3 linked regions of the Homo sapiens genome follow. The protein of the gene in region 2 purifies or fractionates together with the protein of the main gene of each other region. This does not show direct contact. Each region holds a gene or a part of one and is shown on either strand. Other genes may lie near its edges.

Region 1 (7,033 bases), on a different chromosome or scaffold from region 2:
CAGCCCAGGGCACTGGGGAGGCTAAATGAACACAATCCACCACATTTTAATATTCTCATCACTCAGGGGATATAGAAGCTGGTCTGGAGAAGCTGCCAGTGTATAAAAGGCAAGATGTTTTCACAAGGAAGAAGGGATGAGTACCAGTTTGAAAGTGACAGATCGATTTGACTGAGGTTCTTCCACAATTTTCTGCAAATTAGCTGCCACTGTAATCATACAAACAGAGAAGGTAATGAATGAGAAGTTACATAAATCCACTTTCAACCATATTTTAAAAGCTTAAATGGTAGTTAAGAATATGCTCCGTACAATCAAAATGGAAGCAGACAGATCAAATAATCACTCCCCTAATGAAAGTGTCTTTTAAACTCATTTCTGAGTAGTACACCTTGAACCACTGTCAAATTAACTTTCTTTAAAATGTTGTATTAACCTAGGAAAAACATGCAGGTAAAAGAGGTATGATTTCCTGATTTATGGATCAGAAAGCCCAAGGCCAGAAGTCAACAAACCAGCCTGTGGTCTGTTTTTGTTCTCCGGCAAGCTAAGAGTGGTTTAAAAGTGACAGACACTGTACATGGCCCGCAAGGCCTAAACTATTTATTATCTGGTTTTTCACGGAAAACTGTGTCTAAGGACATGGTCTTTTCCTTCAGTAACATGGACCTGTGGCCTCACTGGGCCTTCTCTCTTCCTTCCTGCTTTTCTAGTACTAAATCTCTAATGACTTTTGCTCAACTTGGGCCACAAAAATTAGGTATCCAAAACAGATCAGATATGGCCAAGCTTACTTTAACTTGTGACTTTTGCCATAATTTCTATTAATCTCCTAAAGACCTTGGGTGTGCTTTCACTTACCATCATTGGAGGTCACAAAGCAAACTCAGAGGTGAAATTTTGTGTGTGTGTAAGGAACTGTCCCATTACCTATAATTTCAGGAAAGCCAAGAACCATTTCAAGAACCATCAGACCTACTCAGTGGAATAAAAAACCTGCTTTTCTATGTACTAAGTATACAGACAGAGACACAGGAGCACATGAGCAGAACGCAATGGAGTTACCTATTACTAAATCCCTTCCGTCGACCAGGCCAGCAGAAATGAGTTCCTGAGAGACACCCTCTGCTGTATCTGCAAGGACAAAGAAGACAGTGCTCTGTTTTTTGTGCGTGCTTGCCACTGTTAACTCTCACAGCTCATGTGGGTGTCAGTGTGCCATGCTAGGCCCAAGCTGGATGCTAAATCCACAGAACCAAGAAGGCAGGCAGGGCCTTCCTTCCATACAAAGACTTTTCCTACCACTGAGATTATCTCAAGTGGAATTCTCACAGATCTAGCTAGAGGGCAGAATCTGTATAAACCAGGTAGCAAATATCTGAGACATGATGTTGAATACTGAACATCTCTAGGGCTAAAAAACCAGAATGATTTATTCTCAAAAACTAAGGCAACAATTTTTGTCTCAAAAAATTTTTGTCTCTTCTCTTTGGGAATCATACTCCAAGTTTTTTGCTAAAATCATTTACTTTTTTATTCTGGTGGGCTTTTCTTCTTATCTAGTTATTCCAGGTGGTACAATCTGAGCAATGGGTATAACCAGAAACTAAAAAGATGAGGACAGAATATCCCCAATTAACCTCATCTTCAACCAACTCAGTGGTATTGGTTGCCAAGGGCTTGAAAATGAGCCCCTCAGAGGGAACAGGAGGACTGCGGTGGAGACAGTGTCCACACATTCACACAGGCAACCAGCAATTTGAATTAATTCCTGAAAATGTGATGTTGCCTGGTGTTTAAAAAGTAAAACAGGTGACACCTCTGTACACCTGCATCTTTTCTCTTTAGTGGTTAGTTGCTCATGATAGTGAGACAGCAAGAAGAATAAGCATGATACACAGAACAGATACTTGCTGGCTACTCCCCAAATTAGAACACTGAGTAATAAAGGCAAGAAACAAAACACACCTTGTTCAAGGTGAAGTTCAACAGCCAGAAACAGTACATGACAGACCTCAGCTTCTGTCTGAGGAGAGAGGAGACTGCAGACCTTGTTTCTTTACCATCATGGAGAACAACCATGTATAAAGAATGAACTTTGGATTCTGACAGATCTGGTTTGAATTCCAGCTATACCTCTTTCCAGCTGTGTGACCTTGAACAAGTTACTTTGCCTTTAAGTCTTGATTTCATCATCGATACTATGGGGATAATAATTTTTCCTTAGTAGACTGCTGTGAGAATTTAATAAGATAACGCTTAAGACAATGCCTGGCCTATAGTAAGCTGTAAAGAGCTATCATATATTTATTACTGTTTGTATTATTATACAAGGTTTTCTAAATGTGTTTAGTAGTCAACGAACTGCATTTTTATCTCACTCATATACTCGCCAAAACCAGGAAAATTTTTATTATCCTTTAAAAGCAAAACTTCACAAAGGACAGAAACTTCACAACACATTTCATTGAATCACAAATTGGAAGCTATTTTGTTTTCAATCCATTTGATGCCTCACCTCTCCCAGGAGTAAATTCAAATCGAATATCATTTAGTTCTTTTTTGGAATTCCTATGAAAGAAAGCAGAATGCATAAAATAAGAATTTCTAAATTTATGCAAAGAGATTCTGCCAACATATATTAAGAAAGCTGTGCCTCAAGAAAGTCTGTTTTGTTCCCATAGATCATATGATGTATTCAGATATGTTCACACTGCAGAGCTCAGAGCAAAACCAATTCGGAATGACCATCTAATTGTCCTACAACCCTTTGAATCTATGTCCCTTACTGATCAATATAAAAATTTCATGCCTTTGAGTAGATTCTTATATGCCCACTCCCATCCTTATTCCCACACCAAGAACATATAAAACTAAGAGGAAAATTGTATGAGCACAGGGAGGTGTGATTAAAATGATACAGGATGCCTTTTTCATCCTTATCCCCACTCCTACATGCCCACAATTCATTGCCTACCTCTGGTGATCAGTCTTGGCAGACTCATAAAATGAAATACATGATACTCCCTCAAATTCCATAGGAATTCAAAGAATATATGAGAGATGGGGATAATAAGGAAAAATTTTAGAGGTAGTTTTTATATAGGACTTAACAGATATGCAGGATTTAGGTAGGCAGAGAGGATAGGGAAAGGAATTGGGTCCATACTGGTAGCAGAGTTACTATATGACTCCAGAAATTCAAACCTGACTGGTGAGGTACAGTTACAGTGATGATCACACCATGCACTGAGATTAAGCAGGATCCCTGGAGGTTTTGTTTAAAGACAGAGAAATGAGAACACTATATCTAAGGGCAGATATGCCTGCTCACTTAGGACTCAAATCTATTTTATATAAATAATGGAGAGGGTTTACTTCTATTTGATGAATAATATACTTGAGGATGTTACTGAAATTGTGCTTAAAATAGAACTACCCATCTCAAATATAACATGCCCCAAATGATTTTCCCTTGCATTGCGTTCTTTCTACACAGGTACATACAAACTTATACTTCTGCATGTATATACTACCTGAAATTTGCTTTTAGCTGTGTAAGTACATAGTTCAAATCAACTTCCAACCTAGACTTGATTATTAAGGGAGTCATTTAATTTTCTCTTTTCTCAGTATCCACCTTTCCACAGTACCGAAGAGTGCTATACATAGTCTGTGCTTAATACATTTCACAATAATTTTCTTAAAGTGTTATTCTTTATGTAGATTTAAAACAGCATGAAGTTGTCAAGACATCCTAGTAACTCAGAATTTTTGAGATGAGACCAGGTATACTAAGTAGGCTTCTGTAAAGGAAAGGTAACCAAATATGTTTTTCACATTTATGGCATAAATGCATTGCTCCTAGTGGCAAGGAGCAATGAGATTCTCCTTACCACATTCTCTTAAATAGCTCTTGCTGCCTCTATCTCCAATTAGGACCTTACAGAAAGATGACTAGGAATTTATATGTGCAAGGGGAATGAGTTAATGGTAATTCAGTGGAACTCTTTTTTAAAATGTTAGTAATAGTTTTAAAAGGCCTGAGTTGCCTCAAGTGATACTTTAATACTAATTTTTTTTCAAATGCATTTATGAGTAGAAAGAGACCTAACTAGAGCAATACAACAGCCATAGTGATTCTGACAAGAAAGCTCTGGAATTTGAATCCAGCTACTAGTGCTAGGGGCGGGGGGGGCGGGGCAGGGAGTTAAAATGAACAGACTGCTACCTATGGCACTTCCTGCTGAGCAATCTGTCAGGACCTCTCTATATGTTCCCACCAAGAACCACCAATTTAGGGTACTTGCTGCAAAACAGAAACAGACTACAAAAACATTTAGAAGTTTCCTTTTAACCTTCTAAAAACAAGGCCTTTATTTGATCTACCACAATCAAAAAGTGCTCCCCTCTTGGGTTAGTTGATCTCAGAGTTTACCTCGTCACAATTATAAGACTGATCTTCAGATAAGCCAGTTAGTGCTGCTCCCCTAAAAACTGTTCCTCAATTACAGGCTACACCTCCTAACCCAAACTAGCTACACTGTAAATACACAAACTCATCACCAATTAGCACAGAAACAACTGAGAGAACATGTGCATCAGTTAGTCACAACACCTGCTAACATGCAGGTCCTCACACTGTTGCTATTATTTCTGGGGAAAAATAATACACCACCAAGCAAACAGAGCTTGATGCTGGAGGACATACAATCCTATCCAGTTACTCTCAGGCACAGACTATTACAGCACATGCAGAATATTCAGAAAACAAAAGAAAACAAAACAAAAAATGTCTACTTACCTTAATCTTAGTACTAGACTGATTGGGATCTTGGTTTCTTGTGAACCTGATCCTGAAGACAAAGCCTAAAAAGCATTGAAAGGTATACAGTCATTGCCTGAAACATTAAGTGGGGAGGTGACTAATGGTCACTGGCAGAGGAATCATTTACTTGGCAGCAATTTTCTTCATCTCCAGCTGAGGTCATACTAATCCCCAGGACATTCCCTGCTGGAGGAGGACATGCACTCCAAGGCAGCAACAAAAGCTGAATGTCAGTTTAAGTCCAACACAATGAGAAAGAAAACTCTCAAGCCCAGATGAAATTTCACATATAGCCACATTTACATTTTATATTTCTGAGACCCCTGTTCCCCTCTACAAGACTGAAAAACACAAAGCTAGGTTTCTCATTTTTAAAAAATCTGCCAGTGCACCATATGGCAGTACAAAAGGTAGACCCTGAACCAGCTGCCCTTCAGAAATCCATCCAACCCATACATAGGTTCCAGTCTTTTTATGGCTAAACTAATCCTCTCTGAAAATTGTACAGCGCTTGCTTATGGGAGGACATGCATTCGATTTAAGTTGTTTATAAAATGAATCTAATTTTTCCATCAATTTTCCTAAGACAACTGTATCTTTTCCCATATGCCAAGCAGAAATGGAAAGCTTGAGGGATGCAAAGTTAAATGAAGTAAGTGCCATGACTAATTGGAAATGCTCAAAGCAGTGATCTCCAAAGGCAGAACACGAGATGATCTACTGGGGTGCAAAAGAAAAAAAAAAAAATCAGACCTTTAATTTATATTTCTTTTCATCTAAAACGTTAGACAAGAAAATGGAACTTCTAATATTTAATAAATGGACGTTGAAAGTCTTACTTTAACCATGTACCATAGGGCCACATGTTGTATGCAGTGTCTGAGGTTTATTGAAGGGAGAGAAGGAGTTACACAGCATGTAGCAGCCCACTACGGGGCCTTCATTCACTTGGCTGCTCTCAATGAAGTATGATTTAATAAAGTTTGTGTGCACCTGGATAAATGATTTACAGATTATAATACCCGGACTTAACAAACCAACCCTCACAAAATTGACAAATAACTTAAAAAGAGTAATAGAGAAAAACCACAGAAAACAAAGAGTATTAATAAAAAGTATAAGCCTGAGTGAACAACAACAACAAAAACAGTACAGCCATCGATTCTCCTAGTCTCTGTTGAACTTCATGAGCTGCATTCTGAAGTTAAATGTAATTATCTAATACAAAGCTGACAAGAAATTAGCCCAAAATTTTTGATGTTTGAAATATTTCCATCATTAACTTATTCTGTTGCTTAAAAACCTGCATGTGATCCTTGTAAAATTCTCTTACCTGTACATGCTTAAAAATGTGAAGACAGAATTTCTAACTTGTTTCAAAATCTACCAAGACATTAACCTGATTACATTAGGTTATATTCCACGTTAATATCTGCTCTTTTCATCTATCCAAAGGAGTGACCATGAAACCATATCCCCGGCTTTACCTGAGCTGTTTTTGCTGGCTCTGCGGTGGGTGGGAGAGAGACTTGAGTTGGCTGTGTAGCAATCTGCCCAGCTGGCTGAGGTAGATGAGCAGAGATCTGTTCTGGAACTTGGAGCAAAGTACCCACAGGATCAGTTGTTGGAAAGAGCTGTAACAAAAACACACACAGTGTTGCTTAAGTTGTGTGGAAAGGGAGGCAGGTCTGCTGACAGCAAGTTCAGCCTTTCAGGGTGATATTTTCAAAGTAGTTTTTGGGTAGTGTACAGGTTTTGTGTCTACTCCGAATATATCTATTCCAAACGGAAGTCAAATATTTCTAGGCTTTTAAACTTTTAACAACTCTGTGAGGTATAATTTATATTTCTCTACATTTACCCACTGTAACTGTACAATTTGGCGATTTTTGTACCATATATAGAATTGTGCAACCATCACCACAATCGTTTTAGAACACTTCCATCACCCCCAAAAAGTCCTCTCATGCCTATAGTTAGTTCCTGCTTCCACACCCAGCCATAGGCAACAACTGATCCTAATTTCTATAAATTTGCTTTTCTGGATATTTCATATAAATGGAATCATATAATATATAGTCTTTTGTGTCTGTCTTCAGTTTGCATTATATTTATCTTTAACAAAATCTATTCCATTCCTTTGCCCAGCAAAACAGCACCTCCAAAATACAGATTTAAGTATGTAATACAAAATTACAGAAGCTA
Region 2 (5,305 bases):
AAGGCACTGGGTGGCAGCAACCTTTTTTCTAGTAGTTTTTTCCCAGCAGTTTTCCATTTCTCCACAGTATCCTTTTCATTTAGAGGAGCTTAATAAATGCTTTTTAAAAAGTAACCCACGTGACGTAAAATTTTACAAGTTTTTGTGGCAAAATGATGCCCAGATAGTCACATTTAAGCAAATATTCAGCTTGATTCAGTGATTAACAGCAAATGGGTCTACGTGCTAACATGGCAGCACATTCAACACATAACACATCACTCACATTGACGTCCACTGTCCCTGCACCTGCTACTTCAGGGGCACTGAGGCTCCTGTTCCAAGGCCTTACAAACCTATGTGGTGGCCTGCAGGGCAAAAGGAATTATCATTACAACTGGTTAGAGGTAGGAATTCAGAAAGAAATTGAGGAGGCCAAACACACGTCGTTTGAGGCTAAAGGCTTAAGACGCTTCTTACCCAAGAGTGACCTCAGAGTTTCACATCCCAGACAATCACACTGTGGTTGAGTGAAATCAAGTGCAGTTTTATTTAAGAACTGGAAAGAATAATCAGTATCTGTGAAAGAAAATCCAATTTAGAATATTTAAATAAACATTTATGTAAAAAGAAGAGTAGAATAATTACTCCGTTCAGTTCCTCTCCTTGCAATGGGATAGGCTGCCTCTGCTGCAGATGGCTGGGTCTTCCAAACCCATGACAAGTGCCACGGCCTCTGCAGCAGTGGCCCAGAGAGTAGGCACTTCCCAGCATGACAGAGAGGCCGAGGCCTTCTAACCTTGCCAAACCACTACAAAAGCAAACTAGGGTGGGCAAGCCCAACTACCTAAGGCAGGAAGAAAGTGCAGTGAAGGGACAGTGGTGTGCTGTGCGTATCGTGGGGGTACTCCTAAGCAGCTAGCTGTTGGCGAGATCTTACAAAGCCTGATCGGCTAACGCAGCTTCCTGGTTTAGGAACATTTTCCCCGGTCGTATCAATCCCCCAGGTTGGTAAATGAACAGAAGGGATGAATAAAGCCTACTTTTTAGGCTCAAGGAGCAGCTCGTGAAGGGGTGGCAGGTGCGCTGCTGCCTTGTTTTCTGTCCTGCTAAGAGGCTCACCCCGCGACCTCTTCTGTAAACTGCCACTCAGCAGCGGCCTGCAAGCCCTCACGAAAGGCTTCACTCTATGCTGTTTCCAGGTAGCTTTGTTCTGACAGTACCTATTTTCCACTTCAGAATCTCCACTTTAAAACCTGCAATGGAAAAATAAATCTCTTGACAGTTTTTTAAATCGAGAAAATTGGTGATGTGGCCTTGGCAGCAAATACCCAGAAAGCCTTTACCTCATTAACCTGATTCTCCACGGGCCCTGCCACTGCTAAATTTATAAAGCTAAAAATAATCTCAAGATCATGGAACTAAAAAGAAGTCAATCACTTACCAAATCCTGTCCTTAAGGAGTTCATCTTGGCTGGGCGTGGTGGCTCACGCCTGTAATCCCAGCACTTTGGGAGGCCGAGGCGCGTGGATCACTTGAGGTCAGGAGTTCGAGACCAGCCTGGCCATCATGGTGAAACCCCGTCTCTACTAAAAATACAAAAAAATTAGCTGGGCATGGTGGCCCAAGCCTGTAATCCCAGCTACTCAGGAGGCTGAGGCAGGAGAATCGCTTGAACCCGGGAGGCAGAGGTTGCGGTGAGCCGAAATGGTGCCACTGCACTCCAGCCTCCAGCCTGGGCCACAGAGCAAGACTGTCTTAAGAAAATAAAAAAAATGGAGTTCATCTTTTATCCCTAAGTAATTGCTGACTTCTGCTCTGGGATTATAAACAGGGTGGGAATGTTCTCCCACCATCCCTACCCCTGGAATTCCTCTCCAAAGCAGAGTACGTCAAGTTTTCCCTGGTGTCAGACAGCATTTCACCATGAAACCCTAAGACCTGCCTCCTGGGCTCCTTCCAGCTGGTGGGCCTGGTGTGAAGGTGGGCTTCCTGGGCCTCTGGCAGATGGAGGATGGCATTAAATGCCAACACAGTCAGCTTACCATCCACAAGGCCAGCAGCTGCCAACAGCTGCCCTAGACCTATCAACAAGACAACTTCATGGCTCCCAATGGGAATGGAGGCTGGGCCCGCCCTACTTAGAGCAGGGGAAAGAACTTTTCCCTCAAAGAGCCGGGGCAGGATGCCAGAATCTAACTACATCCTCTCCCGGTTTGCAGTTCTAGGAAGTGGAATTTGCTGCCCTAGGCGTGGTCTAAAGGACAAGTTTAGAAATGATTCAACTCAAGTTCCTAAACAGAGTAAGTGCCAGTTGATGTCCCACCGTGGATCCTTTACTCCAGAAAAATTGTAATGATGGCTCGGCCACCGCCTTGGCTAGAGTCCCACTGCACGCGTGTCGTGAGGGCCGATGGGCAAGTCCGTCCGGTTTTTTTTGTTGTTGTTGTTGTTTTTTGAGATGGAGTCTCGCCCTGTTGCCCAGACTGAAGTGCAAAGGCCCGATCTCAACTCACTGCAACCTCCGCCTCCTGGGTTCAAAGGATTCTCCTGTCTCAGCCTCCTGAGTAGCTGGGATTACAGGCACCCGCCAGCACGCCCAGCTATTTTTTTGTATTTTTAGTAGAGACGGGGTTTTATCATGTTGGCCAGGCTGGTCTCGAACGCCTGACCTCATGATCCACCCGCCTTGGCCTCCCAAATTGCTGGGATTACAGGCGTGAGCCACCGCGCCCGGCCGTCTGTCTGGTTTTCAAACCAATCAATGAACCCGTAAGCCTCTTTGGTATATATAACAATGAAAAAATTCATTAAGCCATGAAATCTAGAAATAAGTCATATTTCTGAGTTGATAAAATGCTTTTCTGAACATACATTTTAGGTATCTGGCACAATTAACCAAATGTCTGCCCATTTTTGTGTAGCTTTCATACAGTACAGATTTCATTGATGTCGCTCCCACATCTGAGTATTAAAAACATTTGACATTGTTCTTCTCAGTCCTCACAACACCCCTGTGAGGTAGGTGGTATTGACCCCATTCCACAGATGGGGAGGTCTAGGCACGGAAAGGTTTAGTGGCTCCTCACAGGCCGCGTGGTGGGGCAGCAGAGTGGTGCTCTGGCCCCGCGCCGACGCCGCCTTCACATTCACACTTCTTCAGTGCCACCGCAACACTGCATGGCAGGATCTCACGCTGAGGCCAAGTTCCTGTCTAGTCCAGAATGAAGCCAGCGTCTCACCTCTTAAAGCTTCGATGTGTGACTCAAAGCCAACTTACTCTCCCAAACTTGCAAAACAAACATACTGACTGAATCTTAGTTGGGACTATTTGCAGTATTTAAGATTATTTTTGAGAGTCAATCTGCTTGGATTTGTAGTTGTATATGCTCAAATCCCTTTGGAAAACAGTTTGAAATGACATGAGGGACAATGTAATTTTGAGAACAGAACACAGAAAACAAGAGTTCTGAGACTGGCATTGAAATTGAGAATATAAGCTATGGTAAAATGAGAATCAAATCCCAAATAAACGGAGAGCAGCACTTCTCAATGTTTAAGGCCACGCACAGGGCAGGCATTCAGTAAGCACTTCTTGGATCAAAAGAAACTGATGCTCCTTTGAGCCGCCTATCACTGACAACAGGAGCTGAGACCCCCGGGAAAGCCAGCCAGGGCCATGATCCCCTTGGCCTGGGGCCACGGTCACACAAAGCCACTCAGCCAAATCGTGTAGAGTTATCTAGGCTTACTTGCTGCAGGATAAAAGTTGAACTAGAACACCAAGCATTGAGCTAGGAATACCCCTTTGAATGTGTACTGCTACTTATAAAAAATAGGTATGTAGCTATGATTAAATAGATGAAGGGCCAAAGCATCCTATGAGGAAGTATTTTTAAAATTGTATAGATGTTCATGCAGTGGGGGACAGAAATAAAGAGGTTAAAGCGGTCTGTGTTTTTCGGTTAAATGAAAGGTTGTAAATGCATTTTTACCGCTGATAAGAAGGGGTACCTGCTACCCCTTTCTGCTGTGGAGTGTTGCTGAGGACAGAGTCCATCTCTCCCAGCGAGTCCTGGTTATCCTTTACTTACACTCTGGCCTCGGGGGCAGTGGCGTGTGGCCTCGGTCCTCCCCAGGTAACTCTGGAGGGCGCTGTGGAATATTGCTGTGATTTGCCCCTTACTCGTCTTTCACCCATGTTCCGCCTTGATTCGGCATAAGGACAGACTGCTCCAGTGGGGCCTTGGGTCCTCAGGCCTTCTGACCGCTTGGTCTTGAGTGACATTCCAGAAGAGTGACTAATGACATAAAACGATTAAGAAAATCCATGTGGCAGCGGCCAACCGGAAACAGTTTTGTCCCAGGCTGCACAGGGTCGGAGGCCCCAAGGTCACCGGGGCCACTGCCCGTCACAGGTCCACCTTGACCCCCTTTATGAAAGGCAGGCCCGTGGGCACCCTCTTCTTATACTCCAGGTACTCCTCTCCAAAAAAGTGAATTAGTGAGATTTCTTCTTCTTCTGTTCGATCGCGGAAGAATCGCCACACTGTCAGGGCATAGCTGACGCCGCAGATGGGGTTACACAGCATCACCTAACAGAGGGAGACACCAGGCTCATCAGGGTGACCGTGGGATGACGCCCTGTGCTTTGGTAGGCGTCTGTCTCTAATACCCAGAGGATTTCTGTGCCCATGCCCTGCTGAGACCGTCAGGGTCTCTGGGAGCAGTACTGTCACCTTAGCCCTGAGCACTCAGTGCTGCAGGCCTTTCTCACGTGCTTTCCTGTTGCTCCTCTTACATGAGAGAGATCTGTAAATCACAAGATCAACCTCTTGGATTTCAACCCTCAGCTTGGGGTGACAGCAATGCCCCCCACCTCCAGGTGTGAGCTCCCCAACATGAGGTCCCATGCACGCTGCCTTCCTGCCCAGGACCCTCCCACCACAAATGCATTCGCTTACACCACAGCTGCCTGGGCCTCTGCCTCCTAAACCCACAGCCTCTGCTTCAGCACGAGATACAGTGCCACAAAACTCAGCTTCCGAAATGCCCCTTCCAGCAGATTACCTCCACGCTCAGAGAGCTCCAGAGACTGAACCCCACCCCCTGAGTCTGGGTTTCCAACCCCAGAAGAGCAGCACTTCGCCCACTTCCCCAGTCTCCTGCCCTCCCCACGCTGTGCCCACTTTGCCTCTTTTTTTTCCCCCGAGACAGATTGTCACTCTGTCACGTGGAGTGCAGTGGCGTGATCATGGCTCACTGCAGCCTTAACTGCTTGGGCTCAAGTGATTCTCCCACCTCAGCCTCCCAAGTAGCTGGGAC
Region 3 (7,033 bases), on a different chromosome or scaffold from region 2:
TCTGAACAATTAGAGTGGTTAATTACTTGTTTATTTTTAAGTTTATAAAGAGTTGACATTACATTTAAACAACAATTTAATTAGGACAATTTTGAATGTTGACATATCATCAAAAACATATGCCATTTCTAAAAAGTCTAGATTCAGAGCAGGATGCCATTTTAGGTGAACTATGTCTTCACTAATGAAATAGGACGCAGAGAGAAATACTATGTTTATTAAGAACTTTTTGCTTAGAGAAGACAATAAAACATATTTAAGAAAAATATATAATACAAAAAATAAAAAAGGAAAAAACAATGCCTTCTGTAGTCTTATTTCACTACAGATTGAACTAGGGAGATAATTTTCTTCTTCACAGACAAAGATCTTTAAGTTTCTTTTCTCTGATTATTTGATCAAGGAACAAACTATATTACAAACATGGCACAAAATCCAGGCTTTCATTTCTAGCCAACCCTCAAACACCACCAACTACAAAGAAAATTTAAAAGTCTAATTTGTAACCTTCAGATAAGTATAAATTAGTTTTTTCTAGGCTTTCATTATTTGGCTTCTTATACAATCTATCTTGTAAAGTACATTCCTCTAAATTTACATTATCTAAAATTAAGGCTAAGCATTATTTAAATCAATTAATCATACAATATTTTATGACAATATGCACATATTTATAAAATAACTTTTCCAAAAGCAGTAATACCTCAAATTAAAAAAGAAATCTTTTATTGCTTTGAACTATCTGCTAAAATAAAAACACACAGAAAGGGAAGAGGTTTAACAGGTAGGAAGAACATAGAAAACCCTTAAAAGTTTTAAAGTAGTCCAGTTCACTTCTTCCAAACAAAAGAATTCACAGTGTCTCTTCAGGTTTAAAATTCTAAGCATTCAAATTGCCATAGTGCCCTGCAAAAACTAATACATAAGTGAAATTATTATCTATTAAGAATAAAATGGTTTTTAATTATTTTTGACTAATTATATTCCATAAGAGCATTTTCTTAAGAGAGAAAAGTTTGTTTCCAAGGCTTATAATTCAAGCCAATAAATATCAGTAATGTTGACCCCATAACTTCCATCAGTAAATATAAGAAAAACAAAACAAAAACCCTGAAACATTAAAGCACAGGTAAATATAACTGTCTTATACCTTGAATTTTAAAAAACCCTGAATATCAGGTTAATAGTAACCATTTGAAATGAGAAATGAACAGCTTCATAATCCGTCACGGATTAAAATTTTTCCCTCCCTGAGAAAAAATATCACTACAGTAAACTACCCTTTTTAAAAATAATGGTGGTTTTGGCCCTTAAAAGTGATTTGAAAGATCATTTTTTTTTTAATTCAAAAAACCTGTCATAAAAATTGAAAAGCATATTTACAATTTAACATGAAGTCAAATTGTTTGGCACCTATACCAATATTAATCTTATATTTGTGTTACACTGAAAAATATGGAAAAGTATGTGGCATACCAAATATATTATTTCCAGTACTGGTACTTGGGATCACTTAAATTTTTTTACTAACTGAGAACTATCTAGAATGCAGTATAAATATCAAAAGCAGGATACTCACATCGTCATATATGAAATTCGCAGACCCTTGTTGCAAGTGGTCTCTTTTCCTAAAGAAATCTTTAAACAAAGAAATTACTTTTTTATTGTAATTTAAAATACATAGTTTCAAATATTTAGTGCACCCAGGTACACAAAAAGAATAATTTCATATTCAATTAAATATTAAGTGATTGAATAGCCCTGGCAACAGAGATATGAGAAAAACTTCCAAAAATAACATAACGTTTTTATCATTTATATTCCTTAATATTTGAAGCCTTTAAACTAATTAGATTTAACAGTGAATAAAGGGAGAAAACACATATTATTATAAACTTGCTGGAGGAAATGAGACACATTATTCAAGAAAAATAGCTACATAACACTGTGCACTTAGTTTTAAATAGTCAATACCTGTCAATGCTCGAAGCTTCACACAGCAAGCAACATAATCATCAAAGAAAATTCTGCCATTCTTGCTATAACGTTTAACAATAGTAGTTAATGTTTGAGGACTCAACCTATAACCTAAAAAAGAGATAAATTAAAACTTCTAAATGTAAATAACATAAGAACACTGCAAGATTGCTTTCTCATTAAGTCATAAAATAACTTTCAAAATTCATTCCACAAAAATATAATTAGAAACAAAACACATGAATATTGAAATTCATCAGACAAAGGCTTCACTGTTAATCCTGTTAATCGGTATATAAATATCACAATTCTAACTTTGTAATAAAGTCAAAGCTAAGGAAAAGAAAATAATTCTCTTCTTATGAATTTATCATATATTGTTATTTTGAAATAATGTCTAATTTCATGGGTTTTAATGCTTCAATATTTCAAGTATGTAACTTTGTATAGTTCTTAAAGAATATAAATGCAAAGATTACTAATGATCTTTGTTATTCAAATGATATTTCCCACTGAACATATTACTTGCAAGTATCTTTTATAACTAAGAGAAATTTGAGGATCAACATGATTACTCTACAGGGGAAAAAAACAGAAAAACATTCTTTTTTGTCCTGGAATTCTTAGTGTTTCTTCATACACTGTAATAATAATAACAGCTTTCTCGCTATTTCACTGATTTCCTTGGTTCTTTGTTCAGTAGTCCTGTGATGTCCAAAATCTTTGATTTTTACTTATATCAATGAGAAAGAAGTTTTTGATCATTCACTCCCAGTATGTTTAAATTAATTTTAAATTCTATACATGTATTATTGTTTGATTACTCCTATTTTAAAAAATACATAAAATCTAAAATTTAAAACGAATACAACTGAATAAAAACATAAATTAATATATTCTACTTGCTGTACCCTTATAGATGGTCCTATGCATTTAATGAGATGTATACATTTTACTAAGAAGAATGGTAGCCCAGTATTATTGCCCATACATTACTGGATTTGTAGACTTGAACAAATGACACTAATCAATTCAAAGGTGAAAACAACCAAAATAAATGTAACAGGAGAAAATTATACATGCAGCTATAATAGAATGTAATGTGGGAAAGGTATAAATTGAAAGAAGCAGTAAAACATGCAAACTAATGTAATTATATGCAAATATATTTTGAACTTCATATTAGAGAGTTATGAGCTAAATGTGGTACTGATAAAATTCCTAGATTTTCCCATAGTATTCTCAGAAAAATAATTTGAATATTTTAAAATATACATGAAGATCTTAAATTTGGATAATCCAGAATACCCTTTTTACATTCCACTGCCTAACGGGAACTCTGGAGGTTTTCTTTTCTGCCAAAGATTACATTAATTTCCCAACATTAGGCTGAATTAAGGTCCAGGTTTAATCCATTAGGTATTAAGGATCTATAATTGAACTACATATGTTTATATGGGCTGGACTGTCCCTACTACTAAATTAAAATGTCTATTTATAAAACAAAACCAAACAAATCACTAATTTGACTTATTTAAATTGCAATTTGAGATAAGCCCACTTCCATTGGGTTCAGATTTTAACTTCCAAAAAATTAATTTTCATACAAATAGATTTTGTTTAGAAGAGTGTAAATCACAAGCATAAGAACAATTCATAAAGCTACTTAAAACTGCATTAAGTTTAAGCAAATTAAACACCATTGTATGTTATCCATTTTAAAAGTACACTAGGAACATCAGCTTATCAGAGGTATAAGAATAAAGTTATATACTTCTAAATTACTCTAAAATGCAACCTTTCCATCCTGATGTATTTTGGCACCTGCTATGTGTTCTGCACTATCTAAGAAAAAAAAGACAAAAACATGGTTTCTACCACTGAAAACCTATTTTGTACAGACTTTTGACTGACTGAGGCAAGCTTTGGCTCCCAATTAGATATCCTGCCAAGTTATAAAAGAATACAATCTAACTGGTAAGTACTAACAAAGAAATAAATTTAAACACAACAGAAGAAATTCAGAATGTATGCATGTATGGAAGATCATCTTTTGAAAAAAATCATAATTAAAATGGTTTTGTTGAGGTCTTTGGTCAGAATTTACCTACAACCTTGAAAACAAACAAAGGAACTTGCTGGCAAAAAAATACATCCCTTTATTAGTTAGTAAATTGAAGCAATTAAGTTCATCTAATCAAAGAACAAAGATTAGCTTTATAGATTCTAAAGAATGTTAATGTTCTTACCCATAAGACCAATGGCTTGACGCAACTCATGATGTTCTACTGTGCCACTTCCATCTTGATCAACAGTCATGAAGTTTTCCTTCCAGGCATTAAGAGCTGCCCATAGCTCTTTGAATGCATTAAATCCCATTTTTCCTGTGTGATCTCTCTGATAGTTTTATTAACAAAAATAAATTCTGATACCTGAGTTTATCTGACTCTAAATCATTGACTAAAACATGAGTATGCTTCTGTAGACTTAGCCAAACTCATTATATGAACAGACTTCTGCATAAAAACTAGAAAGCCTAGAATTTAAACAGGATCTTACAAAGTATTTTTAAATTCACTAGTTTACTACAGGCACTGAAATCTAACCACTGGCTTGATAGTCAGAAAGCAATTACTCTTTATTCTAGTATTTTCTATTTCTATTCAAGGATACATCCAACATGGCAATCATAATTCTGCAGGTTTCCAAACTGAAGGCTGTAAAACATATTCAATATTTAAATTAGAGTATGCCCAACTTTATCTATGTAAAATTATGACAATCTCCAGTTTCAAAATAAAACATTAAAAAACTGCCAAAATATATAAAATCACCACAATCAACAAGCTATTATTGAATGTTAAGCACCCATTGTTTAAAAAAAATTACTGCCTTCAAAGTACTCACATCTAGTGAGGGGACTAAGTTAATTAAATGAGCAATTACAAACTAACTGAAAATTACTGTGACAAAGACATTCCAGGTATGTAAAGCACTTGGCTTCACCCAAGCCTGGGGAAAAGGAAGGCTTCCAGTCTTCATAACACAAATGACAAGTGGAGTTAAAGTAGAAGTTTGACATGTACTCAGAGATCACAAAACTTGCATTAAAGTATATGGGAGAGAGTGACATATGATGACATCAGAAAGGCAAATGAGGGCCAAATCATGAAACTTTTGAATACTACCCCCAAAAAGTTTGGGCCAATGAAAAGCCACTGAAGTGTTTTCAGAAGCAGAAGGGAAATTCTAAAATTTCCATTTTAGAAACTTAGTTTACAATGAATAAAATATAAAGTGAGATGATATTGGAAATAGGTAAGTCCATTGGTAATTTATTGTAATAGACCAAGTAAGAAAAAATGAGCATCTGAATTGAAGCAACTGGTTTTTCTCGGGGGTTGGGGGGAGAAAAAAGGAAGAAAAAATCAATACAAGCTATCTTAAAACCAGGGGTGATTTGAAATATTAACACTTTCATATTTATAGAACTACAACTGATGACCTATTGATAAAATTCAATTTTTCTAATCCTTTTCTAATTTTTCTAATCCAATTACATTCAATTTGTATGCTGACATATCTCAAGACTAATTTCATGCCCTGATAAAGAAAACATCACGTTAGTACAGTTTAAATTTACAAAGTGCTTAATAGCAGCTTGTTAATATGAATGAATGAAAATTTTCAAAATTATTTTATCCATAACATCTTAACATTTTATAAAAGCAGAAAATTATTTCAGCTAAATTTTAGACCCACTAAAGAAAAAATTATAAGACATTCCAAGAGTTAAAATTGCTGATTTTCTTTAAATGTTTAATATAGTATCAATGTTAGAATTGTTGGTTGTAGTATTTTCAAATTGACAACTCAATAGATACTCAATGTGTTCTTAGCATGAGTAAGGTGGCGTGTGTTACATGATTTCACATAAACATGCTAAACGTATAATAGTTCCAATTGTAAAAAAGGAAGAAACTGGGACCCAGAAAGGCAGTTCCCCACGTTTACAAAGCTAAGGCTATACAACTGTCAGAGTGAGGGGATTACATGAGAAATTTCTGGAATGGTATTTCCTCTTTTGGGCAAGTAAATAATATCTATTTTGCTTTACAATTAACTTGGCACACATTCATAAAGTGGGAGAATCCGAATTAATGATAATAGATCGCTAAAACTGAATCAGCAAATGAGCAGATCTTCAATCTCAGAATAGGAATGTGTATGTATAAGAAGAAATATTTAGGACAAAGAGTGGAGAGACAGACTTTTCAGGAAAGTTGACAGATTTTTCACTTCCTCCCCATAGCCCATTAGAATGGAGAGTAAACTGATTTAAGGCATAAAACTTTAGAGAAAAAGAGAATTAGACAGGAAACAAAGTAACAAAATTTTGCAAGTTGAAGAGCTGATGGATGTGAGTTAACCAACCTAGATCTGAGAAAATGGATTCCTGAACTTGTAATGAGAAAAGCTGAGAAGCAACCCTTGGAGAAGACCCCAAATGCCAAAGAATTGGCAGTACTTCTGAAAGTGGGTGTGAAAGTGGAGATAAAAACAGAAGAATTGGCTGAATGTCTACCTAAGGAGCATTCTAAGCCTCATATCCCCTCCCTGCCTCGGTTCAGTTGGATGGATGCTACACCTACTTCCAACCCAGCAGAAATCTGGAATTTTATTCTCTGGAGGAGTCTCTGAAATGTAAGATACCAGAGCTGAGACAGGGCTATCTTCTAAAAGCAAGGCAATTAAAGGACAATTTACAAAAGATTTGAGAACCCTTCTGAGTCCACCTCTCCTTTCCAGGCAGAAGGTCAACTGAAAACCCAGTCCAAAAGGGAATCCCTAAAGATACTGACACCCAGAGTTCCAAGACAAAACTGCCCAGCCAAATCACCATACAGTGAAGCCCACAATCAATGCCTAACCATGATCTCAGGGCTTCTAATCAGCAATTTAGTTAAAATAAGAGCAAAGCAGTATCATCAGATAACTGAGAAAAGCACCTAACATGAAAGACAACCAAAACAAGCAAAATGAGGAGAAAAAACAA

The links.
Region 1: the proteins of ICMT (region 2) and OXSR1 purify together in Homo sapiens (affinity purification with mass spectrometry; 2 studies listed by BioGRID and IntAct, with this or other methods). This does not show direct contact.
Region 3: the proteins of ICMT (region 2) and GCA purify together in Homo sapiens (affinity purification with mass spectrometry; 2 studies listed by BioGRID and IntAct, with this or other methods). This does not show direct contact.

Annotation. Positions count from the first base shown.
Region 1 is NC_000003.12:38,245,504-38,252,536, reverse strand, and holds part of OXSR1 (serine/threonine-protein kinase OSR1), read right to left. Parts: intron 6,463-7,033; coding exon 6,316-6,462; intron 4,870-6,315; coding exon 4,805-4,869; intron 2,572-4,804; coding exon 2,519-2,571; intron 1,135-2,518; coding exon 1,066-1,134; intron 210-1,065; coding exon 145-209; intron 1-144. UniProt on the Homo sapiens protein: Effector serine/threonine-protein kinase component of the WNK-SPAK/OSR1 kinase cascade, which is involved in various processes, such as ion transport, response to hypertonic stress and blood pressure.
Region 2 is NC_000001.11:6,220,688-6,225,992, forward strand, and holds the end of ICMT (protein-S-isoprenylcysteine O-methyltransferase), read right to left. Parts: intron 4,576-5,305; coding exon 4,393-4,575; 3' UTR 506-4,392; downstream 1-505. UniProt on the Homo sapiens protein: Catalyzes the post-translational methylation of isoprenylated C-terminal cysteine residues.
Region 3 is NC_000002.12:162,354,099-162,361,131, reverse strand, and holds part of GCA (grancalcin), read right to left. Parts: intron 4,695-7,033; coding exon 4,651-4,694; intron 4,375-4,650; coding exon 4,227-4,374; intron 2,089-4,226; coding exon 1,975-2,088; intron 1,639-1,974; coding exon 1,580-1,638; intron 916-1,579; coding exon 889-915; 3' UTR 1-888. UniProt on the Homo sapiens protein: Calcium-binding protein that may play a role in the adhesion of neutrophils to fibronectin. May play a role in the formation of focal adhesions.